Linked DNA regions of Homo sapiens: all the other regions are linked to region 1. The links come from fine-mapping of genetic effects on gene expression. A gene starts in region 1. Each other region holds a variant in brackets. All regions are shown on one strand. Distances are from middle to middle. Region 1 holds the start of HTATIP2 (HIV-1 Tat interactive protein 2). Region 2 has its middle 20 kb from the start of HTATIP2. Region 3 has its middle 84 kb from the start of HTATIP2.

The links.
Region 2: its variant is fine-mapped to the expression of HTATIP2 in esophagus muscle (GTEx, PIP 0.96).
Region 3: its variant is fine-mapped to the expression of HTATIP2 in whole blood (TOPMed, PIP above 0.99).

What each region holds. Positions count from the first base shown.
Region 1 is chr11:20,357,434-20,367,867 of GRCh38, reverse strand. HTATIP2 (HIV-1 Tat interactive protein 2) reads right to left here and starts at 4,154. Exons shown (of 5, transcript NM_001098522.2): 1 at 3,436-4,154; 2 at 587-694. The coding sequence starts at 3,630. RefSeq lists a cis regulatory region at 96-106, enhancers at 29-173, 1-621, 6,916-7,135 and silencers at 3,805-3,947, 3,734-4,153.
Region 2 is chr11:20,338,131-20,348,564 of GRCh38, reverse strand. No RefSeq gene overlaps it. Among named protein-coding and RNA genes, the nearest start is that of HTATIP2, 20 kb to the left of the region's middle. RefSeq lists an enhancer at 5,411-5,938. The variant C/T (reference allele first, on the strand shown) is at 6,034.
Region 3 is chr11:20,274,100-20,284,533 of GRCh38, reverse strand. No RefSeq gene overlaps it. Among named protein-coding and RNA genes, the nearest start is that of HTATIP2, 84 kb to the left of the region's middle. RefSeq lists an enhancer at 5,817-5,986. The variant A/G (reference allele first, on the strand shown) is at 6,003.

The sequences.
Region 1 (10,434 bases):
ATTTAGAACACCATTAAAAAGAAAATAAAATGTGCGTTAAAAGACTTTTGCGTCAGTAAAGACTGAATCATTAGTGGGGTTGAATCATCGCTGAAGGCTGAGTCATCGCTGGAGGCTGGTTGAATCGTGCCTGTGTTCTGATGTTCTATTCCAGAAGTTTAAAGCTTGACATGAAAATAAGTTGAAGCAAATCACTCAAGTGAGACAGAACATTTCAAATTTCAAACATTTATTAAGGGGAAAAACAGCTGATTGTTAACAGCATAAACCAATTAGTTTTACTCAGACATCATGGTTTCCCTTAGTCAGGGGATGTAGTGATAGCGATAATCACAATAGGCAAAATCATGTAAATATTTACGACGTCTCCAGCACTGGGGCCTGAACTCAAGGATTACTTTGAAAGACGAACTTATCAGTACTATTAAAAGGATACCAAAGGTTAGTGCAGCATATAGAATCTTAAACAATAAAGGCTTATTCACATTTAAGCATTGCAACAGGCACAAAGAAAAAGAGTGAGCAAGAAAAGAATCCTTGATATTACTGGCCAGCAAAAAGGGAAAAGAGCATATGCCTTCCTTACCGCCCCAGCTTTCCCTCTGGTGGTACCCAGGCAACAGAATCCAACATCATGACCTTGAAAGGCAGAGGCGTAGTCATCCAACTTTTCAAAGTCCACCACTTCTTGATTCTAGGCAAGGACACAGTTGTATGTAGTTTCATGTTATTTAAACAACAGACCAAAAACCCCCTCTAGATTTAAAGACTAAGTTACAGAACATTACTGACAGGCCTGTCCACTTAACATCAAATTTTACAAATTCCTTTTCTCCAACCAAAAAGCAATGAACCTCAGTTGAAAATCAACAACACACACATATGTCCACAGTCTATATAACTGGACTAGGGGTGATCCAGATTTCTGAAGTCAGGTTCGATTATAATCTCTCTCTGGAAAAATAAAAGACCTGTGTGTAGCTAACCAGGAAGGAGACCACTGAGGTATGATGTGAGGGCAAGAGATGGCGTTTGGCATCTTAAAGAAGACCTAGCTGCAAATCTTGGGCTTGCTACACTCACTAGGCATGTAGTTACGGGCAAATTATTCATCATACACTACAGCTTTTTTTTTTCAGCTGTAAAATGGGGGTGATAATCTTTCCTTCAGTCCAATCCATGAACCATTTGCATTATAATTAGTCAGGGAGTGCTTAATAAAAAGGCATATTCCTACATCCCACACCAATAGTTCTGAATCAGAATCTGCACTTTTAACAAGCACCCACCTTAATTCTCATGCACACAGAAGTTTACGAACCTCCATCTAACCTTATCAGTTTGCTGTATAACTTAAAAAAGAAAGCATGATAAATTCCTATCATCCAAGAACTCCGATAAAATGTTGGTTTCCATCCTTACTGTCAACTCTGAAAAGAATTTTTCTGGCACTGCCTATGACACTAAAGAAAAATAGGGTTTCACTGTTAATCCCAGCACTTTGGGAGGCTGAGGTGGGTGGATCACGAGGTCAGGAGATCGAGACCATCCTGGCTAACATGGTGAAACCCCGTCTCTACTAAAAATGCAAAAAAAAAATTAGCCGGTTGTGGTGGTAGGCACCTGTAGTTGCAGCTACTCGGGAGGCTGAGGCAGGAGAATGGCGTGAACCCAGGAAGCGGAGCTTGCAGTGAGCTGAGATCGCACCACTGCACTCCAGACTGGGCGACAGAGTGAGACTCCATCTCAAAAAAAAAAAAAAAAAAAAGAAAAGAAAAGAAAAGAAAAAGAAAAATAGGGTTTCACAAAGTACCTAGTCAAACAGATGTGCCACCAAAACTCGACACTCAAAACACAGATTTCAATTTGTTTCTTTTCTTTTTTTTTTTTTTTTTTTGAGACAGAGTCTCGCTCTGTCACCCAGGCTGGAGTGCAGTGGCACAATTTCTGCTCACTGCAACCTCCATCTCCTGGGTTCAAGTGATTCTCGCACCTCCGCCTCCTGAGTAGCTGAGATTACAGGCGTGCACCACCACGCCCAGCTAATTTCTGTATTTTTAGTAGAGACAGGGTTTCACCATGTTGGCCAGGCTGGTCTGGAACTCTTGACCTCAAGAGATCCCCTGCCTCGGACTCCCAAAGCTCTGGGATTACAGGCATGAGCCACCACGCCCAGCCTTCAGTTTCAGCTTCTAATTACCATGAATATCTGACACAGCCCATGAAACCGGTGAGAACACATCTGCCTCAGCCTGAGGAAAGATGTCTGTTTTAAATAAACAAGACTTGATGGACCAAAGGCATTCACACCATGACCTGAACACAGACCTGCGAGAATCAAGAACATTTATTTGCAAGATGGCTTGTTATTTGAAATGTTCTTTCTATGAAACCTGTGGGGCCAAATTCTGTAGCTGTGGTGTCTTGAGATCACACTATGTTAATTTGTTGCAGTTCACAGATAATTCCCTTTAAATAAAGAACAGAATCTCCAAGAAACTCAGGCTTCTGATATTTAGGGGGTCATGACAAGACAGAAGTCTGGTATATCATTCCTATAATCATAAAAGTGTAACTTAGGCTGGGCGCGGTGGCTCACGCCTGTAATCGCAGCACTTTGGGAGGCTGAAGCGGGAGCATCATCTGAGGTCAAGAGTTCGAGACCAGCCTGGCCAACATGGTGAAACCTTGTCTCGTCTCTACTAAAAATACAAAAGTTAGCCAGGAGTGGTGACGCACGCCTGTAGTTCCAGTTACTCGGGAGGCTGAGGCAGAAGAATCGCTTGAACCTGAAAGGCAGAGGTTGCACTGAGCCGAGATCGTGCCACTGCACTCCAGCCTGGGGGACAGAGTGAGACTCCGTCTCAGAAAAAAAAAAAAAAAAACCTTTAACTTAGAGTGAAGGGAATATCCGATTTACAGACACAAGCCTGGGAAGTCAGGCAGGGCAAATTCTTGTAAGTGAATAATCCCACCTTTCACTGCCATAGACCTATCTCACTCTGCAAAGCAGTTTCAGAATCCCTGACAATATTAGTGTGAAGTGCGCAGGTTGACAAAATCAGCAAAGTGGCTGAGAAAATTCTCAAGGTCACCAGGGCTGCCTCTAGAATACAGCTTGTATGACCCTGAAAACAGTGCTCTTCTGTCTCACCAGCCCCCACCCCCATTACAACCCAGACCCAGCTTTATAGGGTTGCAGATGGAGAGAAGGGCTTTGCCCAAGACCACACAATGAGCGGGAGGGAGGCACACCTGGGCTACAATCCAGGAGTCAGACTTCTGGGAGGGACTCTCACAGACCAATCTTGGCCAAGTTTTGATGGCCTCTCACTACCCCCACCACTGGCAGGGCAGTATTCAGCCTTTAGGCATGAAATATGTTCACCTCGCAGAATCCTGGGGGTCCATTTGAGTCCCAGCTGAAATACCCACCACATTTTTATAAGCTTCCTCGTCGAAGGTGAGCTTCCTCCGGCCAATGAGCGTGACTTTGGAAAACAGGCCCTGCTCCAGGATTTCCTTTAAGAGCACTCTGCCGGTTTCTCCGCTGGCGCCCAAAATAAAGACGGATTTATTCTGCATCCTGAAGTCTTCCCGAAGCTTCGACAGGGCTTCTGTTTCGGCCATGCTGGGGAAATAACATCGACAGATGCCGGTCTTAGGGTGTCAGGGGACTGCCAGTCCTTATCCCGAGGAACAAGGGCTGTTTATCTGTTAGGGAGGAGGATATTGTTCTCCGCAGTCCGGGCTCTGGGGAAAGTGCTGAGTCACGTGCGGGGCGCGGCTCCCCGGCCATCGCCCGCACCTGAGCCAGCAGACCCATCGGAAGGGGCCCGAGCTGGAGGGTGCGCCCAGGTGCCACAAGCTGCTGGCATCACTGGGCATACCCCACGGTATCCCCGGCCCGGCCAGGAGACCTGGCCCAGCTCGGTCCCATACGCGGAGGGGTTACCTGGGGCCAGCCCCCGGCCCCGGGTCCTCACGACGCAGCAGGAGCAGGGCGGCCGCCAGAGCAGCCGCCGCCGCCGCGCTCAGCGCCGCAGGCCCGGCCATCAGAGCATCCCACCTTCCCTGGTCGGACCGGGGGGGTTGGAGGCGACGGAGACAGCGCCTACCCGGCTTGGTCTTCCGGGTGGCCTCGCGGCGACGCTGCCTCGCCCCGCCCACAGGGGCGGGACCTGGAGACGAACTCCTGGCACCCTCACAGGCGCGGGGAAGGTGACCCCGAGAGCACGTGCGCGGAGCCGCGACCCTTCCTAAGTTTGGAATCTGCAAGACCCTCTTCCCGCGTTTTCCCTCACCTGCTGGGCTCAGCTCACCCAGGCGCCAGCTAGTAGACTTGCCAGACTTGATCTTCAATGGTCCCCCCAGCTGGAATGTCAATTGTATATTGGCCATCATCTCAAATTCACCAAGTCAAAAACTTAACCCTGCCTACCCAACCACCCCAAACAGGAATAAAACAAACCTATTCCTAGCCTCTCTTGGGTGTCACTGTCCCTACATAAACATACACACACACACGCACACACACACACACCTCCTTCTACCCTGTCAAGTCAGAAATCAGGATTCCTTTGATTCCTTTCTTTTCTAGCCTTTCCACACTACAGACTTATCAAGTCCTGTTATCCCATCTGCCTTACAAATATTTCTCCCATGTAATTCAAGCTCGCATCATATCTCCCCAGAATAAATGGTCTACCTGCCCAGGTCCTGGCCTAATTCATCACCTAGATGGTTGAACCCGGGTGACCTTCCACACCTGTGATTCAGTCTTCCTAGCCCAGATCAGTGGTTTGGGACACAGGTATCTACACTGGGCCTGTCCTGGATCTTGGAAGTCCTGAACAGAGGTTAGAATGACAAGCAGAAATCTGAATAATTTCAGATTGTTCAGGTTTTGTTGGGAACATTGGTCATTTGGGGGCCCCACCTCCCATCTAGAAGCCAATGAAACACATTGCCTCTTCCATCTCCATGGGAGTTATTATATGTAGGCTTTGCCTAGGCTCAGCAAGCCAGAGGCTCACGCATAGGTTTTCAGTTTTGGAGGAGTAATGAAAAGATGCAGTGAAGGCCTGAGATATATGTGGGTTGGTTGGGGCAAGGGTATAGGATTATGGCATCATATGATCCACCAGCCATCTGATGGTCTGATCTTGTCTTAAATTCCTGCCTGTTTTCAGAGACTGTTGTGAATACAGTACTTCCTGTTATTCTTCTGATAAATTCCTGTGCTGTATAAGCTTACCAGATATATTCTGTTGTTTGCAATAAAAAAGCTTGATTAATATAGAGCAGTGTGGTTCATTCCCCACTGGCCTGTCACAGTGCCTGGACTCTTCCCTTTGAGTTCCTAAAGGTTTTCTACAAGAATGCAATGTTAAACCTTGTCAGCAAACACTGTCCTAGTAATTCATTTATCAAATCTGTCACAGAAATTATTCATTGTACCCTGTCTATTCTTCCCCTTTGTTTAAAATTGTGGCATAATTAATATACAATAAAATGTACAGAACCTAAAGGTTCTGTTCCATGATTTTAGGAGATTGTATATACACCTAAATAACCACCACCAAAAACAAGATATAGAGCATGTCTGCCATCCCTGAAAGTGCCTTCATTCCCTTCTTGCAATCTCTCCCCACTCCAGAGGTAATCACTTTCTGGTCACTATCAACATAGATTAGTTTTGCCTGTTGTAGAATTCTATTTAAGAGTACAGCATGTACTCTTTTGTGTCCCAGGTTTTTGGCTTAACACATATTTTAGTATTTATTCTTGTTTGTAGGCCTGCATTATGATTTCTATGGGCCCTAAGCACTTCATGAGCCCCTTCATTTTATGTACACACACTATATAATCAAAAATTATGTCTTATGACTATGTTGCTATAAAGATGAATATGACAAACTATTTATATAATCAAAAATTATGTCTTATGACTATGTTGCTATAAAGATGAATATGACAATTTCTTTCACCTAAAACATTTTCTTCCACCTAAAAGTTTATTTTCACAGGCCCCAGAACTGTGCCTACTGTGCCAAATGAGTAAATCAGCCCTGGTTGTTTCATGTATCAGGAATTCATTCCTTTTTATTGCTGAGTAGCCTTCCAGTATTCCAGTATGAATATCCCACAACATGTTTAAATATTCTCCTGTTGATGGACATTTGGTTTGTTTCTACCTTTTGGCTAATTATGAATAAGGCTCCTATGAACATTATTGGACCAGTCTTTCTGCAGTAACATGTTTTCATTACTCTTGGACATATATATACACACACACACACACACATATAATGTTTTATATATATATATAATGTGTATATATATATAAAATGTGTATATATATAATGTGTGTATATATAATGTGTATATATAATGTGTATATATATAATGTGTGTGTATATATAATGTGTGTATATATATAAAATGTGTATATATATATATAAAATGTGTATATATATATAAGATGTGTGTGTGTGTGTGTATATATATATATATATATATATATATATATATATATATATATATAATATAATGACCCTGCAGGCAATCAGACCTTTTGGTTGTCTTCCCTTGTCCCCTAAAAATTGCTGTTATTCTGTTCTTTTTCAAGGTGCACTGATTTCATATTGTTCAAACACACGTTTTACAATCAATTTGTACAGTTAATACAGTTATCATAGTGGTCCTGAGGTGACGTATATCCTCAGCTTACGAAGATAACAGGATTAAGAGATTAAAGTAAAGACAGGCATAAGAAATTATAAAAGTATTATTTGGGAACCGATAAGTGTCCATGAAATCTTCACAATTTATGTTCCTCTGCCGGAGCTCCAGGCAGTCCCTCCATTCGGGGTCCCTGACTTCCCACAACACACTTGCAAGCTAGCACGAGCACGTGACAGTGATTTAGCCAACGAGAAGCAAGCAGAGGTAATATGTGCACATTTGAATCACATCTTTATAAGGAAGTTACCTTCTTTCCTTTCACTTTCCCTTTCCCTTCACTTTCCCTTTCCCCCTTTGCTTAGGCCAGAATGTGAATGTACTGGTAAACCAGCTCTGACCATGAGGAGAAAGACACTCTCTAGAGGATAGCAGGGCAAGGAGCCCTTGGATGACTTCATAGAACAGAGCCGCCTGCCCACCCTGGACTGCCGGCACACCTCTGGGGAGTGAGAGAAAAATCAACTTCTGTCATGTTGGAGCCACTGTAATTTTGTTACAGCAGCTTAGCCAGCATTTTGCCTAATGTAAGATTCTTTTAGTCAATCTTGTCAATGGATATTTACTGATTATCTAATGCAAGCCAGATACTGTGCTAGGCACAATAGATTTTTCCAAGGTGAATCAGGGACACCAGCTAAATTCACTCTCATCTTGAAGGCAAGTCATAAATACTTGGGAAGCTAAATAAAGTTAAGCAACATTATAAAACATCCCCCAAACTTTCACAGGGTGGCACATGCTGAAGGCCAAATGAGCATACAGAAATAGAAGGAAACTCAGAGAAAAACAAGTCCATGCCTTTCCTTCTCTGACAGCTGGAACCATGTCATCCAAGTGCTGAGATAATGTGACAAGACCTAGGCTCCTAGAGCAACCGGACCACAAAAATTCAGGGCAAAGGGGAAGGGGAAAGCATAGGGAAGGAGGGAAAGGGGACATAAAGAAACGGAGCTGGCATGGAAAGATCCTTGGCCAGAGACCTGCCTGCCACGTTCAGGTTTGCCTTTGATGAAGTCTCTTCATATATCTTGGCCTCCATTTCCCTATCTGTAAGATGGGAACTGTTTCATTACATTCGCTTTGCTCCAAGGAACAAACTGACTCATGGCGAGTAAAGATGGTGAATATTGTAATATTGTAAGGCTATAAATCATGTATAAGAGAGACAGAATCTCAGAGAAATCTCAAAACAGGATCTGCTGTAGGATGGGGCCTTAGGGAGACTGGAACTGTATTTAGGTCAGATTTAGAGTCCTCAGGATCAGGGATCCATGCATCTTCACTTCAGAGCTATATTTTTAGTTATACCTTCATTAAGACTCTGTTTCACGTGTTTGAAGCCCCAAACTCAAAATGTTTTGAGGAAAAAAAAAAAGGAAATGTCCTGGCTCATGCAACTAAAGAATCAGTGTATATAATAGTCTTGGCATGACCAGAATCAGCCAGTCAGCCAATGGGGCCAGGACCCAGTCCCTCTGCCAACCATGGCTCTATTTCCCTTCACGTCGGCCTTACTCTCAGACCCTGCAAGATGACCCAAAGGCTGTGCTCTTGCTCATACTCTTCATTGTCTAAATTCAACCAGAAGCTAGAGGGAACTTATATTGTGCAGACCAGTTTTCTTCAGGGCATACAATAAGGTAGATAAATGAGGAGAATGGATGATTGAAGCTATCAAGTACATCCCCCTAGATTCAAGTCCAGTAGAAAGAGCATAACTGTAAGCAGAAGTCCCCAGCTGTATCTCCTTAGTTCTGATTAAACCTTATGATTGTCACTGTGGCTCTGGGAATGAAGCCGGGTGGGGCTATCTCTTCCCACATGTCTGGGAGTAGGGGAGGAAGTAAGGTCCCCAAGGAAAGTAGAGGTCACTATTATAGAAAGAAAACAGAACGGATGTTAAATAGCATCTAAAGTGGCTATACTTGTTCCCCATTTATCTCATTTATTTGTAAATATGAATGCTAGATAATTTTTTTTTTTTTTTAACAAATGAGAGCTTTAAATAACTGTAGCATGACTAAGATATCTGGTTGGGCACATAAGAGGTTGGATTTGGTAAAGGTAGGTGTCTGAAAGAAAGTATTGTAATTTTCTGCTCTCACATAACAAATACAACCATGAATTGCATTCAACAGTTTAGGTAGTTGATTTAGTGTATCTATCGTGTTCTTGATAGCTAATTGTTTTTATAGATGGAGAAACTGAGTCACACGTTTATTAAATATATCATCTAAGATCTTGGGATTCAACTTTGGTGCCAGGACAAGAACCTGGATATCCAGATCAATGACAAAATCATGAGTAATACCTGTGTAATTCTAGAATGTTTTCAGGAAAGCATAATTCTTCTTGTTTTTAGCTGATAGCACTGTATTTGTTAAATTCTTCAGGTTCCCTAGCACTCATGGGTATGTCCTCTTACTGATATATACCAAAGGAATAACCTATGTAAAAGCACTGTGGTAGGTAGAAGTATGGCTGGTTTTGAAGGGCCAAAAACCAATATGCTTGAAATGGAGAGATGGAAGCATGGGGCAGGGGCAGGGCAGGGGAGGGGAGACTAGAGAGGCAGGTAGGGACCAGCCTGTGAAGGACATCATAAGATACATTATCATTTATAATTATTGTTAAATTTTAGGTTTTAAAATTTAGCAAACTTGATTTTATTAGATTTATTTTTTATGGTTTTCTTCTATTCAAGGTAGTGAAATATTACCTTAATTACCATTAATACATTTATTAGTACCTGTTACTAGTAGTACATTTAACAAAGTTTAAAAAAAAAGAGGACGTTTTCATAAAATATTAAGTACAGCTGAGTGTATTGTAAACATAGGATATGGTAAACTCATGAAAATAGTATCTGAAGGAGTAAAGTTTGGGAAACACTGGTATGTTGGGCATTTTTCTTTTTTCTTTCTTTTGTGAGATATGATCTTGCTCTGTCGCCCAGGCTGTAGGGCAGTGGCATGATCTCAGCTCATTGCAACCTCTGCCTCCCGGGTTCAAGCTCCCACAGCCTCCCGTGTGGCTGAGACTACAGACACGCATCTTTTTTTTTTTTTTCTCCAGAAACAGGGTTTTGTCATGTTGCCCAGGCTGGTCTTGAACTCCTGAGCTCGAGTAATTATCTGTGTCAGCCTCCCAAGTACTGGGATTACAGGCACATTTTTCATTTGCCCCTCCAGATCCACTTTCCACTCTCTGTATCCTTTTCTGTGACTCCACAGCTGACCTCTAAGGCCTGCATCACCCAGTCTACCTTGTCCTCCTTGACCTATCACCTACCTTGGTGATAAGAGTCACCAGTAGGAAATTGAAGCAGAGGAGGAGTATGGGGTTAGGGGCTTTATTCCCCTGAATTCCTGCTATGAGATTGCTATTCCTCGACCCAAGAGCCTCACTCCTGTCTGATAGCCTCCCTGACAGCTGCAGGCACTCTCTCCAGGTTCCAGTAACCACCTCCTTGCCTCAACCTTTTAGACTTAGGAGTAGAAATGGCTCCCCGCTATTGCTAGCACTGAGACACAGCACCATTCCTTGTTGGGTTTTCTTTAACCCTTCCTGCTTCCTTGTAAATAATCTTTCACTAAATTCTCCCTCAGTTACTCTGTTGGAACATGTTCTCTGTTTCTTGCCAGGACCCAAACTGATACACATGATGTGGTAGAAAGCAACTTTGCA
Region 2 (10,434 bases), 19 kb after region 1:
CTTATGAGTGAGAACATGCAGTGCTGGTTTCTGTTTTTGTGTTAGTTTGCTGAGGATGATAGCTTCCAGCTTCATCCACGTCCCTGCAAAGGACATGATCTCATTCCTTTTTACGGCTGCATAATATGCCATGGTGTATATGTACCACATTTTCTTTATCCAGTCTATCATTGATGAGCATTTGGGTTGGTTCCATGCCTTTGCTATTGTAAATAGTGCTGCAATAAACATACATGTGGATGTGTCTTTACAGTAGAATGATTTGCATTTCTTTGGGTATATACCCAGTAATGGGATTGCTGGGTCAAATGGTATTTCTAGTTCTAGATCCTTGAGGAATCGCCACACTGTCTTCCACAATGGTTGAACTAATTTACATCCCACCAACAGTGTAAAAGTTTTCCTATTTCTCCACGGCCTCACCAGCATCCATTGTTTCTTGACTTTTTAATAATCACCATTCTGACTGGTGTGAGATGGTATCTCACTGTGGTTTTGATTTGCATTTCTCTAATGATCAGTGATGTTGAGCATTTTTTCATATGTTTTTTGGCCACATAAATGTTTTCTTTTGAGAAGTGTCTGTTCATATCCTTTACCCACTTTTTGATGGGGTTGTTTGTTTCTTGTAAATTTGTTTAAGTTTCTTGTAGATTCTGGATATCAGACCTTCGTCAGATAGGTAGATTGCAAAAATTTTCTCCCATTCTGTAAGTTACCAGTCCACTTTGATGATAGTTTCTTTTGCTGTGCATAAGCTCTTTAGTTTAATTAGATCCCATTTGTCAATTTTGGCTTTTGTTGCAATTGCTTTTGGCATTTTCGTCATGAAGTCTTTGCCTATGCCTATGTGCTGAATGGTATTGCCTAGGTTTTTTTCTAGGGTTTTTATGGTTTTGTGTTTTACATGTGAGTCTTTAATCCATAGCAAGTTAAGTTTTGTATAAGGTGTAAGGAAGGGGTCCGGTTTCAGTTTTCTGCATATGGCTAGCCAGTTTTCCCAGGACCATTTATTGAACAGGAAATCCTTTCCCTGTTGCTTGTTTTCGTCAGGTTTGTTGAAGATCAGATGGTTGTAGATGTGTGGTGTTGTTTCTGAGGTCTCTGTTCTGTTCCATTAGTCTATACGTCTGTTTTGGTACCAGTACCTGCTGTTTTGGTTACTGTAGACTTGTAGCATAGTTTGAAGTCAGGTAGCATGATGCCTCCAGCTTCATTCTTTTTACTTAGGATTGTCTTGGCTATATGGGCTCTTCTTTGGTTCCATATGAACTTTAGTTTTCTCTAATTCTGTGAAGAATGTCAATGGTGGTTTGATGGGAATAGCATTGAATCTATAAATTACTTTGGGCAGTATGGCCATTTTCACAATATTGATTCTTCCTTTCCATAAGGATGGAATGTTTTTCCATTTGTGTCCTCTCTTATTTCCTTAAGCAGTGGTTTGTAGTTCTCCTTGAAGAGGTCCTTCTCATCCCTTGTTAGCTGTATTCCTAGGTATTTTATTTTCTTTGTAGCAATTGTGAATGGGAGTTCATTCATGATTTGGTTCTCTGCTTGTCTATTGTTGGTGAATAGGAATGCTTGTAATTTTTGCACATGGATTTTGAGACTGAGACTTTGCCGAAGTTGCTTATCAGCTTAAGAGTTTTGGGGCTGAGATGATGGGGTTTTCTAAATATAGAATCCTGTCATCTGCAAACAGAGACAATTTTACTTCCTCTCTTCCTATTTGAATACGCTTTATTTCTTTCTCTTGCCTGACTTCCCTGGCCAGAACTTCCAATACTATGTTGAAAAGGAGTGGTGAGGGAAGGCATCCTTGTCTTCTACTGGTTTTCAAAGGGAATGCTTCCAGCTTTTGACCATTCAATATGATACTGGCTGTGGTTTTCTCATAAGTAGCTCTTATTATTTTGAGATATGTTCCATCAGTACCTAGTTTATTGAGAGTTTTTAACATGAAGGGATGTTGAATTTTATCAAAGGCCTTTTCTGCATCTATTGAGATAATCATGTGGCTTTTGTCACTGGTTTTGTTTATGTGATGGATTATGTTTATTGATTTATGTATGTTGAATCAGCCTTGCATCCCAGAGATGAAGCTGACTTGATAGTGGTGGATAAGGTTTTTGATGTGCTGCTGGATTCAGTTTGCCAGTATTTTATTGAGGATTTTTGTATCAATGTTTATCAGAGATATTGGCCTGAAGTTTTCTTTTCTTTTCTTTTTTTTTTTGTGTGTGTATCTCTGCCAGGTTTAGGTATCAGGATGATGCTGGCTTCATAAAATGAGTTGGGGCGGAGTCTCTCCTTTTCAATTATTTGGAATAGTTTCAGAAGGAATGGTACCAGCTCCTCCTTGTACCTCTGGTAGAATTAGGCTGTGAATCCTTCTGGTTCTGGGCTTTTCTTGGTTGGTAAACTATCAATTACTGCCTCAATTTCAGAACTTGTTATTGGTCTATTCAGGGATTCGACTTCATCATGGTTCAGTCTTGGGAGGGTGTATGTGTCCAGGAAGTTATCCATTTCTTGTAGATTTTCTAGTTTATTCGCATAGGGGTGTTTATAGCAATCTCTGATGGTAGTCTCTATTTCTGTGGGATCAGTGGTGATATCCCCTTTATAATTTTTTATTGTATCCATTTGATTCTTCTCTCTTTTCTTCTTTATTAGTCTAGCTAGCAGTCTATCCAATTTGTTATTTTTTTCAAAAAACCAATGAAAACCTGGATTCATTGTTTTTTTGGAGGGTTTTTCATTTCTATCTTCTTCAGTTCTGCTCTGATCTTAGCTATTTCCTGTCTTCTGTCAGGTTTTGGATTTGTTTGCCCTTGTTTCTCCAGTTCTTTTAATTGTGATGTTGAGGTGTTGATTTGAGATCTTTCTAGCTCTCTGATGTGGGCATTTAGAGTTATAAATTTCCCTCTTAACACTGCTTTAGCTGTGTCCCAGAGATTCTGGTATGTTGTCTCTTTGTTCTCATTGGTTTCAAAGAACTTCTTAATTTCTGCCTTAATTTCATTATTTACTCAGGAGTCATATTGTTCATTTTCCATGTAATTGTGTGGTTTTGAGTGAGTTTCTTAATCCTAAATTCTAATTTGATTGCACTGTGGTCTGAGAGACTGTTATGGTTTCAGTTCTTTTGCTTTTGCTGCAGAGTGTTTTACTTCCAATTATGTGGTCAATTTTAGAATAAGTGCCAGTAGCACTGAGAAGAATGTATATTCTGTTGATTTGGGGTGGAGAGTTCTGTCGATGTCTATTAGGTCCATTTGTTTCAGAGCTGAGTTAAAGTCCTGAATATCCTTGTTAATTTTCTGTCTCATTGATCTAATATTGACAGTGGGGTGTTAAAGTCTCCCACTATTATTGTGTGGGAGTCTAAGTCTCTTTGTAGGTCTCTAAGAACTTGCTTTATGAATCTGGGTGCTCCTGTATTAGGTGGGTATATATTTAGGATAGTTAGCTCTTCTTGTTGAATTGATCCCTTTACCACTATGTAATGCCTTTCTTTGTCTTTTTTGATCTTTGTTGTTTTATAGTCTGTTTTGCCAGAGACTAGGATTTGCTTGGTAAATTTTCCTCTATCCCTTTATTTTGAGCCTATGTGTGTCTTTGCAAGTGAGATGGGTCTTCTGAATATAGCACACCAAAGGGTCTTGACTCATTATCAAATTTGCCAGTCTGTGTCTTTTGATTGGGTCATTTAGCCCATTTACATTTAAGGTTAGTATTGTTATGTGTGAATTTGATCCCGTCATCATGATGCTATCTGGTTATTTTGCACACTAGTTGATGTAGCTTCTTCATAGTGTCATTGGTCTTTATATTTTGGTGTGTTTTGCAGTGGTTGGTACTGGTTTTTCCTTTCCATATTTAGTGCTTCCTTCAGGAGCTCCTGAAAGGCAGACTGGTGGTAATGAAATCCCCCTGCATTTGCTTGTCTGGAAAGGATTTTGTTTCTCCTTTGTTATGAAGCTTAGTTTGGCTGGCTATGAAATTCTGGGTTGAAAATTCTTATCTTTAAGAATGTTGAATATTGGCCCCAACCCTCTTCTGGCTTGTAGGGTTTCTGTTGAGACATCTGCTGTTACTCTGATGGGCTTCCCTTTGTAGGTGACCTGGCCTTTCTCTCTGGCTGCCCTTAACATTTTTTCCTTCATTTCGATTTTGGAGAATCTGCTGATTATGTGTCTTGGGATTGATCTTCTCATGGAGTATCTGAGTGGTGTTCTCGGTATTTCCTGAATTTGAATATTGGCCTGTCTTGCTAGATTGGGGAAGTTCTCCTGGATAATATCCTGAAGTGTGTTTTCCAGCTTGTTTGCATTCTCCCGTCTCCTTCAGGTACTCCAATCAATCATAGGTTCGGCCCTTTTACATAGTCCCATATTTCTCGGAGGCTTTGTTCATTCCTTTTCATTTCTCTAATCTTGTCTGCATGCCTTATTTCAGCAAGGTGTTCTTCAAACTTTGATATCCTTTCTTCCACTGGGTTGATTTGGCTATTGATACTTGTGTATGCTTCATGAAGTTCTCATGCTGTGTTTTTCAGCTCCATCAGGTCATTTGTGTTCCTCTCTAAACTGGTTATTCTAGTTAGAAGCTCCTCTAACCTTTTATCAAGGTTCTTAGCTTCTTCGCATTGGGTTAGAACATGCTCCTTTAGCTCAGCAAAGTTTGTTATTACCCACCTTCTGAAGCCTACTTCTATCAATTCACCCATCTCATCCTCTGTCCAGTTCTGCACCCTTGCTGGAGAGGTGTTGCAACAATTTGGAGAAGAAGAGGCACTCTGGCCTTTTGGGTTTTCACTGTTTTTTCGTTGACTCTTTCTCGTCTTCATGAGTTTGTCTAGTTTTGATATTTGAGGCTGCTGACCCTTGGATGGAGTTTTCATGGGCACTTTTTTTTGTGTTGTTGATGCTGTTGTTGCTTTCTGTTTGTTTGTTTTCAATGGTCAGTTCCCTCTTCTGTAGGGGTGCTGCAGTTTGCTAGGGGTTCACTTCAGGTCCTATTCATCTGGTTCGCTCCCATGCCTGGAGATGTCACTCAGTGAGGCTGGAGAACAGCAAAGATGGGTGCCTGCTCCTTCCTCTGGGATCACTGACCTCGAGAGGCATCAACCTGATGCCAGTAGGATCACTCCTGTATAGGGTGTCTGACAACCCTTATTGGAGTGTCTCACCCAGTTGGGTGGCATGGGGAACAGGACCCTTTTAATGAAGCACTTTGTCCCTTGGTGGAGGGAGTGTGCTTCCCTGGGGGGAAACCCACTTGCCTGGGCTGCCTGGATTCCTCAGAACTAGCAGAAGGAAAGGTTAAGTCTGCTGGTCTGCAGAGACTGTGGCCAATCCTCCCCATAGGGGCTTAAGCCTAGGGAGATCAGAGTTCTGTCCCTGAGATCCTGGCTGGAGTTGCTGGAGTTCCTGCAGGAAGGCCCCGCCCAGTGAGGAGGGATGGGTCAGGGTCAGGCCTGAAAAGGCGGTCTGGCTATAGTCTGCCTCAGCTGGTGTGTTGGGTTGTGGGGCACGCCTCTTGGGAGCAAGCCATCCTGCCTCCCTGGCTCCAGCGGGGGCCGGGCGGGGGGGTGGGGGCGGTGTGAAGCGCAGCCTGGAGCTATAGAGATGGCTTGCGTCCTACTCCTGCCCAGGGAGCTTAGCGTGTTAGGCAGTTATCAGTCCCAGTGCTGGCTGCCGCCCCTCCCCCAAGGAGCTCAAAGGGCTTAGACAGTAGGCAGCCGCAGCTGTGGTGATGGTTGCCCCTCCCCGCAGGAACTCAGCAGGCTTAAGCAGATTTTAGCTTACTGGCTGTTGAGAATCTGCATGGCTCCATGGTTGGGACCCTAGGCCCCGGTGGCATGGGTTCATGAGTGGGATCTTCCGATCCGTGGGTTGCACAGTTCCGTGGAAAAAGCACGGTTTCCCCGCTGGGTAGCACACTCGCTCACCACCTCCCTTGGCTGGGGGATGGGTGCTCCCCCGGCCCGTGTGGCTCTAAGGTGAGCTGCTGCAACACACTGCT[C/T]TTCCTTCCTCTCTGTGGGTCATGCTAGCCACCTAGTCAGTTCTAATGAGAGAACCTCGGTTGCTGGTGCAGGATTTGCACGCTATTATGGTTCTTTTAAATGGGAACCTCCGATCGCCACTGCTTCTACTTGGCCTTCTTGGCCCCACCCCCAGGAATTTTTTAACCAATATTTGTGGAAAAATATGTTTAAATTCTCATTTGCCCTGACATGTAATCTTATGCAGGCTGTGAACTACATTCTAGGCAAGTGACTAGAAGACATCTAGCAGTTATCTGTGTGCATGTGTGTGTGTGAGTGTGTGTGTGTTTCAAGAGACGGAAGCTACTATGTTGCCCAAGCTGGTCTTGAACTCCTGACCTCAAGCCATCCTTCCACCTCAGCCTCCCAAGTAGCTGGGATTTCAGGTATGTGTCACCACACTGGGCTCTATCTGGATATTTTCAAAGCACATCTGAGTGGATAAAATAGACTATTTCCAATTAGGCTTTTTCCTTTTCAGCCTCAGATACTTGCTTTTGGGGGCCCTCGAGTCTCTTGAGAGCAGAGGAGCTGAAGGTTCAAGTGACTGAGGGGCTGGGGTGGAAAAAGGTCTGGCAGAGATGGACAGAAGAATGGAGGAGGTAGGAGCTTGAAGGGGGACATATCAAAGGATTCAGGAAACTGAATGGAAGATTGAAAGTGGCAAAAGGATGAAGGAGGAGCAGAAGCAAAGGGAAGGCAGAAACTTCAGAGGGGCCAGTTTTGGGAGATCTTAAGTTTCCCCAAGGAGCCAATGGAGTTCCAAATTATCCTCAGCAAAATTGTGCCAACAAGAAGGAGGTGGACATCTAGTCAGCAGGGGCTTGAGAAGGGGATTTCAGTTAAGTGAGAAGTTCCCATGGGAGGAGCAGGATTAAACAGAGAAAACAGAGAAGACTTAAACAAAATTGGTTCCATTAGGCCCTGAATATCAGCTTCCAATTAGGCCAATTTCTGACCATAGATCTTTAAAAAAAAAATTCTTTCAAATATCTTATTATCAAGTTTTAGCTGGGACAAACAGTAAATATCTCTGGCAATACTGAACTTCTTTTTAAAATAATTTTTTTGAAACTAAAGGTATCTATTTCAAGTGACTCAAAACAAAAGCCAATAAGCCTTTTATGACTTACAACCAACAAGACTTTTATAGCTTAACCGTGGACGCAAGAGTCATCTTCAAAGAGAGTGCAAAAAAGGCAGCCTTTCAAGATCCAGACCACTCCCAAAGATAGCCACAAGAAAGACAGACTTAGATGGCCCTTCTTGAGGGCTGGCAACAGTCAGTAAGACATTAGCGGAGAATGAGATGCAACCTACATTTCCATCAGGCCATATTCTCAGGGCCAACAACCTGATGGTTGACTGTCTGCACATTTCCCTGGCAGGCAGAAAGCCAAGCCAAGCTCTCAGGATGCAAAATGAGATAACTAGGAAAGCAGTAGCTGTCTCTGGCATGGAAAGAATCAGTAAACAAGATGTACCTCAAAACCAAGTTAGCCAAATGTGCAAGAATCATAATCCAAAGAACTAATGTTTGCAAGTTTTTCTTCTGCAAATATGAATATGGAAAAGAAAAAGTGACAAGGAGAAATTTTTACCTTTGTCTCTTAACTGGGTGCTACAAACAGAGATCTGAGAAAGCTGACTTTGGGAGAATGCTTACCTTTTTCTGGCTTTTGTCAGTTTCCCTGGATCCCATCAGCAGGATCTGAAATGAGTGAGGTGTCCAGCCGTCCCTTTGTGGTCACCAGAAACTGTAGGGGAGGAAAAATTTCTTTTTATCCTTCTAAGTTCTCAGCTGGGGCCTCTGTAACAAAAGGCAGATTAAGAAGAGAAAAGCATACAAATTTATTTAATGTAAATTTTATGTGACAAGGGAGTCTTCACAAGGAAATGAAGATCAGAAGTGGTTAAACCTGAGCGTTTTTTGATTTGTCATTTTAAGACGGAGTCTCGCTCTGTCACTCAGGCTGGAGTGCAGCGGTGCAGTCTCAGCTCACTGCAACCTCCACCTCCCACGTTCAAGTGATTCTCCTGCCTCAGCCTCCTGGAGTAGCTGGGATTACACGCACCTGCCACCATGCGCGGCTAATTTTTTTTTTTTTTTTTGTATTTTTAGTAGAGATGGGGTTTTGCCATGTTGACTGGGCTGGTCTTGAACTCCTGACCTCAAGTGATCCACCCACCTCGGCCTCCCAAAGTGCTGGATTATAGAAGTGAGCCACTGCTCCCGACCAAACCTGAGTGTTTTTATGCTAGGTTTGAAAAGTCATGGAAAGTTAGGAAAGTTGTGGGAAAATGTGATAGGACAAAAGTAACAAACTGGGGGAAATTTAGCAAGACCTGTTCATTCATATTTCTTTTGGTGTCCCTTCATCTTTAGGAATATGGATATTCCTTTCCTCCGGGTATAGAGTAAGGTACCTCTCACCTGAAGGTCTATAACCTGCTTCAGGATAGAAGGGCAAGGGAAAGTCAGAGAGTTCCTCCTACTGTTTCTCAAATTACTTCAGCTTAAAAATATTCAATATGCCAAGCTCCTATATTTTGGGGTAATGTGTCTTTGGGGTAGGCATCCTGAACTCCATTATCTCATGTAAGCCATCATGCCACCTTGGGAAGATCTATCAAGGAGTGAGGGCAGAGCAGAAGTAAAGCGCAGTCAACCAACAGAGAGAGAAATTGGGTCCTAAGGCCTTGTTTGCTATGATTATGCAGGCCGGTAAATTCTTTTCTCATTGCAATCTCTTGCAACAGAAGTAATCCAAACTGACGTGGCAGTTATATTTATTAATTTCTTACTTTGTGTCTATCCCTGTGCTAAGCGCTTTCCATGTCTTATCTGTTTTATCTTCTAACTGTCATAATAGCTCTATTAAGTAGAAATGAGATAGGCACTACTATTTTGGGGAAACTGTAAAAACCATGAAATAACTCATCTGAGAGCACACAATTTGTAAACGGAACAATCAGAATTTGAATCCAGTTTCAGGCTTTTCTTATAAAACTAGTATTCCCAGAAATGACACAACTACTCCCTAATGTAATATACATGCTCTAAAAAATATGACCTTGGTTGGTTGTCGCTCTAGGTAAGAGTAGCACATTTCTATCTATTCAAAGTTTCATTGATTTCTCCTTTCTCTGGGTATTGGTCAGGGTCACCATAGTCGAAGCCACCAAAATTTATCTCTCATTTGCATATTGTGCTATATTACTTGCCAACTGTCTTACTAGAATGAACATTCTATGAAAGCAGGAACATTGTTTTGTTCACCGTTGCATCCCTAACACCTAGAACAGTACCTAATCACCAAGGCATTAAATAATATGTTGCATGAGTGAATGAACAAATGTGGATCAGCTTTCCTTGACTATATTGGACAACTTGGAGAGCAAGAGAATACTTGAGAATGTTACACGCTTGATAATATTGATCGGAATCCTTTTTGTATCTTCCATATCTTCATATTGTAGAGGCTGAATGCACTTGGTCACACATACATACATGCAGGCAGGTATGCACGCATGTTAACAGATAGATACGTCAACTGCACTCTTAAAACTCACTTGTTTCTCTCAGCTTCCACAGCAGGATCTGAGAGCATCTGGTTAGTGCCTTGAAACTGAATGTGAATGTTCCCAAACCCTGTTCTAGGCTCCTTTGCTAAGAGCAAAGCAGGGTCTACATTCTTGGCACTGTTGTGGTGGAACTGGCCCCAGCAGAGGAGCCTGAGAGATCTGAGGTCTCATCCTAGCTTTGCCACTTACTAGCTTTGTGGCCTTAGGCAGAGCCTTTTATGTCATTGTACCTCCATTTCCTTGGGCATAATACAGGAATAATAATTCAGACCCGTTTATCTCCCAGCTTTTTGTGAGAAGCAAATTCTATGGCTATGAGAAGACTGAAAAACCAAACAGGATATTTAAGAGTATAAATTGGATTCATACCATTTCTGGGTAAAAGAGGTTAAAAATCTCATTTTGATGCCTAAATCCCTTATATTTATTGACTGTGTGGGTAGCACAGGATTTGACTGAATGCAAATTGAAAGCAATTTAGCCAAATGATTTGGAAGAAAGAAATCTGGTTGAAATTAGTTGGCTCATAAAACAGATTGGTCAAAATAACAGTTTGATAAAGAAAACTTGATTTTCCCAATTATTGGTTTTACAATAATTGGTTATTTGGTTTTACTTTGATGGGGAAGTCTTTTCCCATCTTTTGATATTATTTTTTGCCTTAAGGAATTTCTTAGACTTTTAAAAATTTTACCTGTTTAAGTCATTTTAAGGACATTTTTGATTTGGGTCTTTCATCAGTTTGGCCATGTATCAAATGTTCCTCTCAGGAGATCTTACTAGCATCCATTAAT
Region 3 (10,434 bases), 83 kb after region 1:
AGTGCTGTTAGAAGTAGAACTTTCAGTGACCCCCAAAAGCATCAAGTGGCCAAATGAGGTACATGCCGGGCCCATTGTGTCACTGCTGTCTTGGATTCTGAAGCTCCATGACTTTGTGTTTTGGGCTATCCAAGTTTGTTTGAGCAAATTTTTTATCCAAACTTGGTTCAGAAGTCACAACTGAAACTGGACTGGGTCCAGGATTTGATCGAATCTGATAATTAACTGGTCTAGATCCAGATAGAGGGTTTAGATGTCTGACTGGGTTATAGACAGAAACTGGCAGCAAATGTCAGTACTGCAGGAGGTGTGGACTTCAGCTTTCAAAAATTTGCAGACATGTTTGTGTTCTATCCCCTTTGTTTCCTTTTCTTGCTTGCTTTAGGTAGGGAAAAAAATCACTAAGTTGATCAAAAGGGGATCCAAGAGCCAAAGGCAAGATTCAATGTGAAAATGGGATTTTTAGTTTCTGAAAAACTGAGTACTCCATCTTTTGGCTACATCTACCTATACACATATAAGTATTAGGCCCTGAAAGTAGCAAATGCTTATAAAATGGCAAAATCTTACTAAAGCTAATTTAAAATTATAGTGGAATTTTCCAAATGAACAACACTGTACTTTAAAAAATCCATTCAAAAATCATTGTTGGTGTGTCTGTATATCTACACATCTATGTATGTTATATGTATGTGATAATCCTTGGTAAATGAAGCTAGTTTTCGAATTGTTAGCAAACTAAAATATAAAAGGCTTCAAAATTGTCAGTTAAACATAATTGAGACATTTTTACCTGAGTCTACTGGTCAGACAGGTTTATTCTGTCTTAGCTACATGTTTTAAGGTCATAAAACTGATACTTCTGTAATATTTGTCACACTTGTTTGACTTGTCTGTGAGCTAAAGCTGTAAGAGTTGGCTGCTAGACTCTCCTAAAGCCTTGCACACATCTTGCTGTGAGCCTGTCTTAGGTTTGAGCCTCTAGATTTTTGAGGTCTGGACAGGTGACCATGCTGAGGCCTAGGGACATAGTCTCAACAGTTCAATCACCAGCTGCAAGGCAGAGCCACGCCCCACATGGCCCTATCCTCCCTGGTCCAACTTTGCCTCCTGGCCATTTTGGGATTGGTTGGATCCTCCAAGCAACTCTTCACCACTGTGTTCTCTGTCCTGAACTCTATATCTGGGACATAGAAGGGTCCTGCCTTTCATAGCTCTTCTGGGTGCCATGTGGTTACTTGGGACCCAGGAAAACTGGGAAAGACATTAGGGAGTTTATCTATGTCACAGTTTCAAAACTCTTCAGTAATTTAAAATCTTACAGTCATGTTAATAATTTAATAAATTAAGTAAAAATAATATAGTGTTTGAGTCATTTCTAAGTTAAAATACTGAAACATTAATTATTATTATTATATTACTTTTTGAGACAGAGTTTCACTCTGTTGCCCAAGCTGGAGTGTAGTGGCTCAATCCTGGCTCTCTACAACCTTTGTCTCCCAGGTTCAAGTGATTCTCCTGCCTCAGCTTTCAGAGTAGCTGAGATTACAGGCATGCACCACCACGCCTGGCTAACTTTTTTTGTATTTAGTAGAGACGGGGTTTCACCATGTTGATCAGGCTGGTCTCAAACTCCTCACCTCAAATGATCCACCCGCCTCTGCCTCCCAAAGTGTGGGATTACAGGCGTGAGCCACTGTGCCCAGCTGAAACATTAATTATTAAACATACGTTTAAGTTTATATACTTTGGCATTTTATTTTTATGTGGTATACAAAAGCTAAATATATTTAGATCTGTTAATAAAAAAATTGAGAAAGTATATCTTTTTAAAAATATGTAATATGGTTTTTATCTATAAATAATAATATAAAACAATTAAAACTTAAATCCTAGGTTTTCACTAGAAATTTGGGTTACTAGAGTTAAAATTGTAGTTAATATATGTAATTCAAACTACTAGATACTTTAAAATTCTGTACACAAAGTATATAAAAAGCAAAATATGTTTTTGGTGAGGAAAGTTGTAAAGGAATAAAAATGTGTGTTTGTTAAAAAAATAATTTTGTCTAGTTTAAAAGTTATTTAAAGGTAATTTTTAATTTCAAAAATAAAAAATATATAAATAAAACTAAAATATAAAAAGCTTAAAAAAGAAAAAAGAAAAATCTTGTAAGAAATTATAAAAGGTTTATGAAGATCTTATGTGGTTAAAAGCTGACTGAGATTGGATGATATATTTATAAATTTATTAAAATTAGCTTAATATTAATAATACATTAATACAAAAGTAAAATTTGGTTTTTACTTTTAAAAAACTTTATGTAGTATTAAGAAGAGACAGTAAAATACTTTCATTCAAATTTGCATAAACTACAAAAAAAGGTGGGGAGAGGGAGACAGATTCTATCTCATACCGTTTTTATTAGGTCTTTTGATTTTTTTGGAAAATAGTCTCCTCTTTATCAAAGAATAAAGGTTTTTGCTTTTTAAAAAAAAATAGTTGATTATCTGTTTGGCTAAGTGAATGACTTTTATTTTACAGTGACTTGTGATTCTTTTTTTTTTTTTTTTTTTTTTTTTGAGGCAGGGTTTCACTCCCATCACCCAGGCTCGAGTACAGTGGTGCAATCTCAGCTCACTACAATCTCCACATCCTGGGCTCAAGTAATTCTCCTGCCTCAGCCTCCTGAGTAGCTGGGACTATAGGTGTGCACCACCATGTCCAGCTAACTTTTGTATTTTTAGTAGAGACAAGGTTTCACAATGTTGGTCAGGCTGGTCTCCAACTCCTGACCTCAAGTGATCCACCTGCTTCGGCCTCCCAAAGTGCTGGGATTACAGGCATGAGCCACCACACCTGGCCTCTGTTTTGATTAAGTGTTTTAAACTTTTGATATATTTGACAGGCTTCCAAAAATCAAATTTCAAAATCAGAATTAAGGCTTTTCACCTCAAACTAACTTTGGGATGTTATGGAGGGCCCCTGCAGCATCTAAAAGAGATAATAAATAGGCTTATTAGATATGTTAAATTATATGGGAAACCTTGTCAAATAACAAATAATGGTTAACCTTCTTCAAGTTACATTTTTATGAATATGTTATTAATATATCTTTCAAAATTGCATGAGATTCCTAAAATTCTAGTAGGTCTTTATATGTTACCCATCATAACTATGGTTATTATGTTAAATTATTATAGGCCACAGAAATAACCAAATTTTCTTGTCAACTGTGTCTTTAACCATGACCATTCTAAGTCCTTTCCACAGTTAATTGCTGAATTCTGATGCATTTCCTGGAAGTTCTTTGCAAGCAAGTAAAATCCTAGAGTGTTGTGTCTTCAAGGAAGTTCATGGAAAGTATGGAAAGGACCCTGAGAAGCACTGCTGAATAGAAATTTTTGATAACTTTAGGATAATATCGTTTGGACTGGGTAAGAATTCCTGGAATTCTAATAAAGAGACTGGCTGGTTTATAAAACTGCTAACCCAAGCAGAACAAGAATTAGTTATATACCAAGGAAATACTTTGCCAGACTTTCATGCTAAATCAGCCAGTACTGAAATTGTTAAGATAGACAATTTGAGTGAATTCCATATCCAAGTTAAATTACCTATGATAACCCATTTAATAAACAGTTAAGCACCTGAATTGGAGAAACAAAATTGATATTTAAGAGGATATTTAAATATCAATTTAAGAGGATTTATATCCTTTTAAATATCAATATAGAAGCTTTCCCATGGAAGAAGGCTGATGCTATAACAATAGCTAAAAGATTATTAGAAAGTGTGATTCCCTCATAGGACACTCCTGGAAAAATCTCTAACAATAAAAGTACTTGTTTCACTGGACGAATTACAGAACAGTTAAATATGATATTATAGATACAATGGCATTAGGTAAAGCTAATTGAATCGACAGGATTGCCTTGGTCAAAGGTATTGCAGACTGATGACAATCAGATCTACTTCCAGTGCAAACTAAAAGTTAATCTTCTATAAATAGTCACTGGTAGGCTTATGCCCCTAATAATAGAACCTCATGTATCTCCTGCTCCTAAACTCCCATACGACTAAATGCTGCAAGCTTTAATGCATTATGCCAAAGTGTATTGTCACAAGGTAAAGAAAGCTTTTCCATGATCCACCAACTGAGGACCATCATGATCTAGAACGCAGAGATTGGGTCTTCTGGAAACGACCTCAGAGAAAGATCAACCTTGCCACTCACTCTGCAGCAGAACTGCAGCCAACTGTTTAAACCATGTTTAAATAAGGCAAAGATTGAGCTGCAACCAATCTGGCTATTTCTATACCTCACTTCTGTTTTCTTTATGTCACTTTCCTTTTCCCATACATAAATCTTCTCCAACCACACAGCCACACCAGAGTTGCTCTGAACCTATTCTGGTTTGGGGGGGCTGCTCATTCAAGAATTCTTTGCTCAATTAAACTCTGTTAAATTTAATTTGTTTAAAGTTTTTCTTTTCACACTAGTTTTGCAGATGTTAATTGGCTTCTATCTGCAATTCTAGAATTGGGCAATATTTTACATCAAAAATGGTTCAGAAGCCAGGTATGGTGGTGTGGACCTGTAGTCCCAGCTACTCAGGAGACTGAGGTGGGAGGATCACTTGAGCCCAGGAGTTCAAGGGTGCAGTGCGCTATGATTGTGGCTGTGAATAGCAACTGCATTCCAGCCTGGGCAACATGGCAAGACCCCCATCTCTAAAACAAATAGAAAAATGGTTCAGAATGCTTCATCCCACCACATGTGCAGGTTATATTTACAGTCAGAGGAAATGAAATGACATACAGAAAGCAAAAATGAGGTATAGAGACAGTCAGTTGGTTAAATCCCTGCATTTGCCTTAACTGAATCTAGTTTGAACAGTTGGCCACCTGCCACAGGCTGAAATTCGGCTGCTATAATTGGCTGAGACTCAGTTGTTGTTACAAAGGCAAATTCCTAAGTTAGGTTTTCTGTTGGTTTATTTGCTAAGTTAGGTTGCAGTTAGTTACACGGACTTGTACAGAGGCTTCTAAAGCCCAAATGTAGTTTGATTTAGAAATTTTTTCATACATTTTCAGCTGGTCATTCTAAGAAACTGCACACACAGGAGTAGCTCTAAAAAGCTGTCCTTCTGTAAAGGAAATTTACATCTAGAACAGAAATCTACATTATTGGAGTATCTGTATCAGGAAAAGGGCTGCTGGGAGATATATTACCTGAGAGAGACTTCAGCTGCATGACAAGACAACCTTTATTCACTGTACAATTCCTCCCCTCACTTTCCCATAACTTGTGCTGTCTGCCACTCCCCGAACCCACAAACTCAAAGCCTCTATTTCTTTCTGTAACTCAGGATGCTACAGAAACTTCAATCATCTGACCCTTCTTTGAGTCTCATATTTTGTGGGACTCCCATGGTTATGCATGTAATTAAAATGATTTTTTTTTTCCTGTTAATCTGTCTACTTTCAGTTTATTTCACAGACTCAATTCTCAAACCTTCAGAGGGTAGAGAGAAAGTTTTTCTCTCCCCGAAATACATTAGTTTCACGTCCTCAAACACAGCCCACGCCAACACTGCCCACAAATGTGCAGGGCTTCATGTTGAAGAGATGGGCAGGTCTGACAGGCTCTGTCCAGTTCTCCACTGCTGCGTACTTTCCTGATGTCAGCCCCGCTGGCTGTGTGCCTCAGCTGAGGAATGTGGCTGTATAGACTCCCCTCATGTATCATGTCTCCAAGTGAAAGAAGTAGAATTTGTAAAAAGAAAAAAATTTAAAAAGCTTATTTCATGTACACTGATTAGCATAAAATTGCTCCTTTGTCTCAGCTTCAAGGGAGGACAATGGTGCTGAGACTCCTGGCTGGGGGGAGTCTTCCTTCCTGCACTCTGAGCTCAGCAAGCCACCCCACACACAGACCCCATCCGCACGGGAAACCAGCATCAGCCACACTTTCAACTGTTAAACAGCAAACAAAGCC[A/G]TTGCTTTTTCCAAGAACACGGAAAAATACAGCAGCCCTATGATGCTGAGATCCAGGTACACATATTGGATTCTAAAATATACAACTTTCTACATCGTAACACCTCTCAAGTAGGGATAATCCTAAAATTAATAGCACTCTGAAATCAGTAGCACATAAAATAAAGGCATGTCTAATAATGGAGGGTGTCTTGGATAAAAATCTTACAGTGAAAGGCAATAACAGAATGTTAGAAACCGAGAAATTAATAAAAAAGCCTCATAGTTATAAAGCTCTGCGCATCTCATAGAAATTTTCCTTCCCATTCCAACCCTTTAAAGAAATGTCTTCCAAAAGACCGAATTATGTCTTATCAATCTGAATATGAGACTGTGTATTTAAAATTATCTAAGAGTATTTTGTTCCTGGCAAAATTGCATGGAAACAGAACCAACTTTGGGACAACAGAGCAAACAAGTCAGTAGACAGACTTGGTTCTAACTTCCATTTCAGGTATCTCCGATTCCTTTTCCTTTTTGAAGCCTTATTTTCCTGATCTATAAAAGATAGACGACAACATTCCCTTCCTTGTTGTTGTTGTAGGATTAAATGAAATAAAGCATGGCACATAAGAGATATTTAATAAGTTACTTTCCTCTTTATATATAATTCCAACAAGTTCATTCGATCTGCAAAACGTGTCTATCAAGTGAGGAACTGAGGAACTTCAGCAAGATCACGCAGCTTGTGAAAGAGTCACAGCTGGTGTCTCCAACAGATCTTCCAGAGCCAAAAGTCTAGTGCCCTATTTTCTAGAAAATGGACAATTCTGTCAAAATCCTCACCACAGGATTTTCACTCTCCAGAGCAGGGTCTCCAGCAAGCCCCTTATTTAGGAACACTCTGGTTCCTGAAGAGCCACAACTCATTCAATAACAAAGTTCAGAATAAACAAATCCAGAGAATGACATTAAAACGGCTAGGCTACTTATAAGACATTTGATTGATTCTAGTGAACATTTGTGTGAGTTCTTGTGTCAAAGATGCAGGGGTCATAATCAGCTCTGATATGATCCAATGCCTGTGACCCTCTCCTCCTGACACCCTCTGGGGCCCACCAGTTCTGGGCCGACACAGCTGCTCTGCTACCCCAGTTTGCAGCTATATTGACACAGCCATTTTCATGGTAGGCCCGTTGTAAATGTGTTGTTACATGGTGCGTCTGCCCCAAATTGCACGGTGTACGTCAATTTTTGTGTGTGTGGTGGGGCTGGCACGGGGGTTGTGGGGGTGCTAGGGCCGAATGGAGCGTGTGATGGGGCAACCCGCAGGAGACCTAACCCTGATAAATTGTTTACTTGTTAGCGATGGGGCTCAAGAGTGGGCTGGGGGCTGCAGGCTCAGCAGGACGGACGTAGAAGGTGGACCCACGCCAATTACCGGCCATTGTGGTGTCCCACCCCATGATTGACACCAATGTCTCCCCTCTCACCATGGGTCCTTTTACTATCCCGGACCCAACACAAGCCCCACTGTGCTAATACTATGGTGTCTTCAATTTCCTTTGCAGCTAGCAAAAATTAACCTAGGCCTCCGGCCTGTAGGAGACCCAAGGGCCTTATTTTATTATGCATTTTTCCCCAGTTTTTCAAGGATGAGTAAAAAAATAGAGGTTGCTAAGGCCAGTTGGACAACAAAGGAAGCAAAGGGACAAACATTATCTTTGGATGACTGACTTCAAAGTTAATGATCTCCCCCACTGAATTGTGCCCTCTGCAGCTCAATGAGGTCTTTGCCATCAGATAAAGAAGCACCTCTTTAATCCACTAACACTTCTTTGTCCCATTGTGGCAAAATGATCATTTCATCAGTTTCGGGTACTCTCTGCCTGGAGAGTTTTTTTAGCCTGAATGATTCAGAGCAGGGGAGACAGAGAAGGGTATTTCTCTACTTCATTTTTCCTCAAGTGACGGCTGAATAACTATGCAAAAAAATTAAGGCATAATGACCCGGCAACAGTGACAAAACCTAATTAGTCACGGAGGCCACTGGGTAATGAGCCGCAAAACCCGGCTCTTGAGTGTGTAATAACTGTATTTTTCTCCATTTCTTCCCCTTTAGTCACAGTCTTGTGTGGCATTTTTAACAAACTAAAATGGCACCAGATGCAACAGGGTTCAGACATTTTAACTTGAATTAAGAAACCATATGTTCCGATAAGTCATGGTCTCTTCTTTCCCACAGGCTAGGTCCTCCATCTGTGAGGTAACACTCCAGTGGTGAGGGAGTGATGGCCATTGGGACGATCACCCCACGAAGGTGACTGGGTGTTAGGGTTGGGAGTGGGTCCTCCAGAACCCGCCTGAGACTGAGGGTCCAGCTCTTGGAAGCAGCCCGGACATTCCAGCTGTGGGCCCCAGATATGCTCCCAAGCCACAGCAAGTCTGAGAGGCCAAAGCTGGAAGAGAAGATGGGAGGGAGGGGTAAGAAGTGGGAAGGGCTCTGTGTTCAAATACCAGTGTGGAAAGCTGAGAGCTGCCTTTAACAACGTTATCCGCTTTCACGTAGAAGAGTGCTTGGCCATCTAAGGCATACGTTAGCCAACCCTGAGTGCCACAAAAACCTTGGGCCTTAGTACCTCCATTGTTTTTGAGATGAAGGAACTACAGACCAGTGAAGTTAGGAAATTGCCCATGGTCACAGTTAGAAATGCAGGAATCAGGATTTCAAGCTCTATTTGTGATCATTATCCTAGTATGTTTACTATGTTTGTGGTCATTATTACTGTTAATCATAATTTCTTCTTAGAATTAGGAAAACTTAAAAGGATGGAAAGTTTACGTATCATACAGCTTGGCATGATGTATCTCTTCAATCCTTGGACAGGGAATTACTTTCCAAAGTCAGTTAGGTAAAGTGTCATTAAGACATAATTTTTATTTAAAGCAAGCCATCATCTACGGTGTGTTCTTGGTCCCACTCTGGGTTTAATATGAGACATTTCCAATCCCAGTTCGTGGAGGAGACACTGCCCCACAGTGCTAAGTTGAATTTCTGTTCTACTTTCAAGAATGTCGTCTTCTGGTTGTCACTAACATGGGGACTGTGAGTGGGTTTACGAAACAGCAGACATTATGATCTCTGTTCTCTGAGAAACAGGAAAGCTGACCTTTCTTTTGTTTTTCTCCTTACCCAGCAGATGAAGGAAAAAATCTCCCCAAGATGAATCCAGTTCTCCCTTGACTTCAATAAGGGATTCATTTCCTCCTGAGCCTCTCTGGTCATGGAATCACATAAGGGAATCCTGAATCAGGAATTCCATGTAGAATGTGGAGAATAGAATTAACCACAGAACACAGACACAGTTTTGGACAGGGACTGCTGTCTTCTTGAGAAATCTTAAAATAGCATGCATTAAACAATAAAAACAAAAAATGTGGCCCTTCTCTCCCTGTAACAGGAACAAGACATGAAATGAAAATGCAAACAAAACAAATAAACAAAAACAGATGTATCTGTGCAGTTTGAAGGTTTATACAATGTAAATTATATTCTTAACTCCTCATACAATTCTGACACAGCAAAGACCTGGTGTCTGGGACTGTATAAAGTGACAGCTCTTTGTCTTTCTAAACCAGGACTGGCTGCATAATTTGCTGGGCCCGATGCAAACTGAGAATGTGGGATATCTTGTTCAAAAATTATTAAGAATTTCAAGATGGCTATGCAGAGTGTTAGACCTTGTGCAGGAGGACCTCTTTAGGGATGAGGTCCTGTGTGACTGCACAGATTACACTCCCATGAAGCCAGCCCTGTAGAGAAAGCTAATGCATCAGTGTCCATGTAGTGAAGGCACACACTAGACAACTGTGAATAGTTCAGAAGGCTGCCTACCATTATTCCAGCTTCTCACTCAGAACCGTTCAAAGTTGAGTCTTTCTTCTTTAAACTTTGAACTTCAGAAAGTCTACTTTAGCATCTCAGAAGTACTGTATGTAAAATGGGGAGTTTCTCCATGCAGACAATGCCATTTCTTCTCGACTCTTCTCCAAACTTTCATCTATTCTAGTCCCGGCAAGCTTGGCTGCTCTGTTCATTGGGCCTTTTCCTGCACTGAAGTCAAGTCATTATCCTCTTTTTATATACTGCACTTCGTGCCCTTGTGAACCTGTTGAAAAATAGTGAAAGAGAGTTGAAAAGTACCACTGGCTCCTAAAAATAGTGCTGACTAGGAGGCAGAAAGGGGGAACTCCGGTTTTATTCAGTGCTAAAGATAACACCACCAGAATGATAGACTCCTCCGAATTGTTTGTCCCCACTGGCCATTGTCCCTTGGGCCCTGAATGAGCCTCTTAGCAGCTCTTGAGGGCCTGTCACAGGTAGGCACCCAACAGAGATAATTCCCAGCCTATGCTTGACTGCCCCTTTATAGACACTCACTCATGGCTCTGAA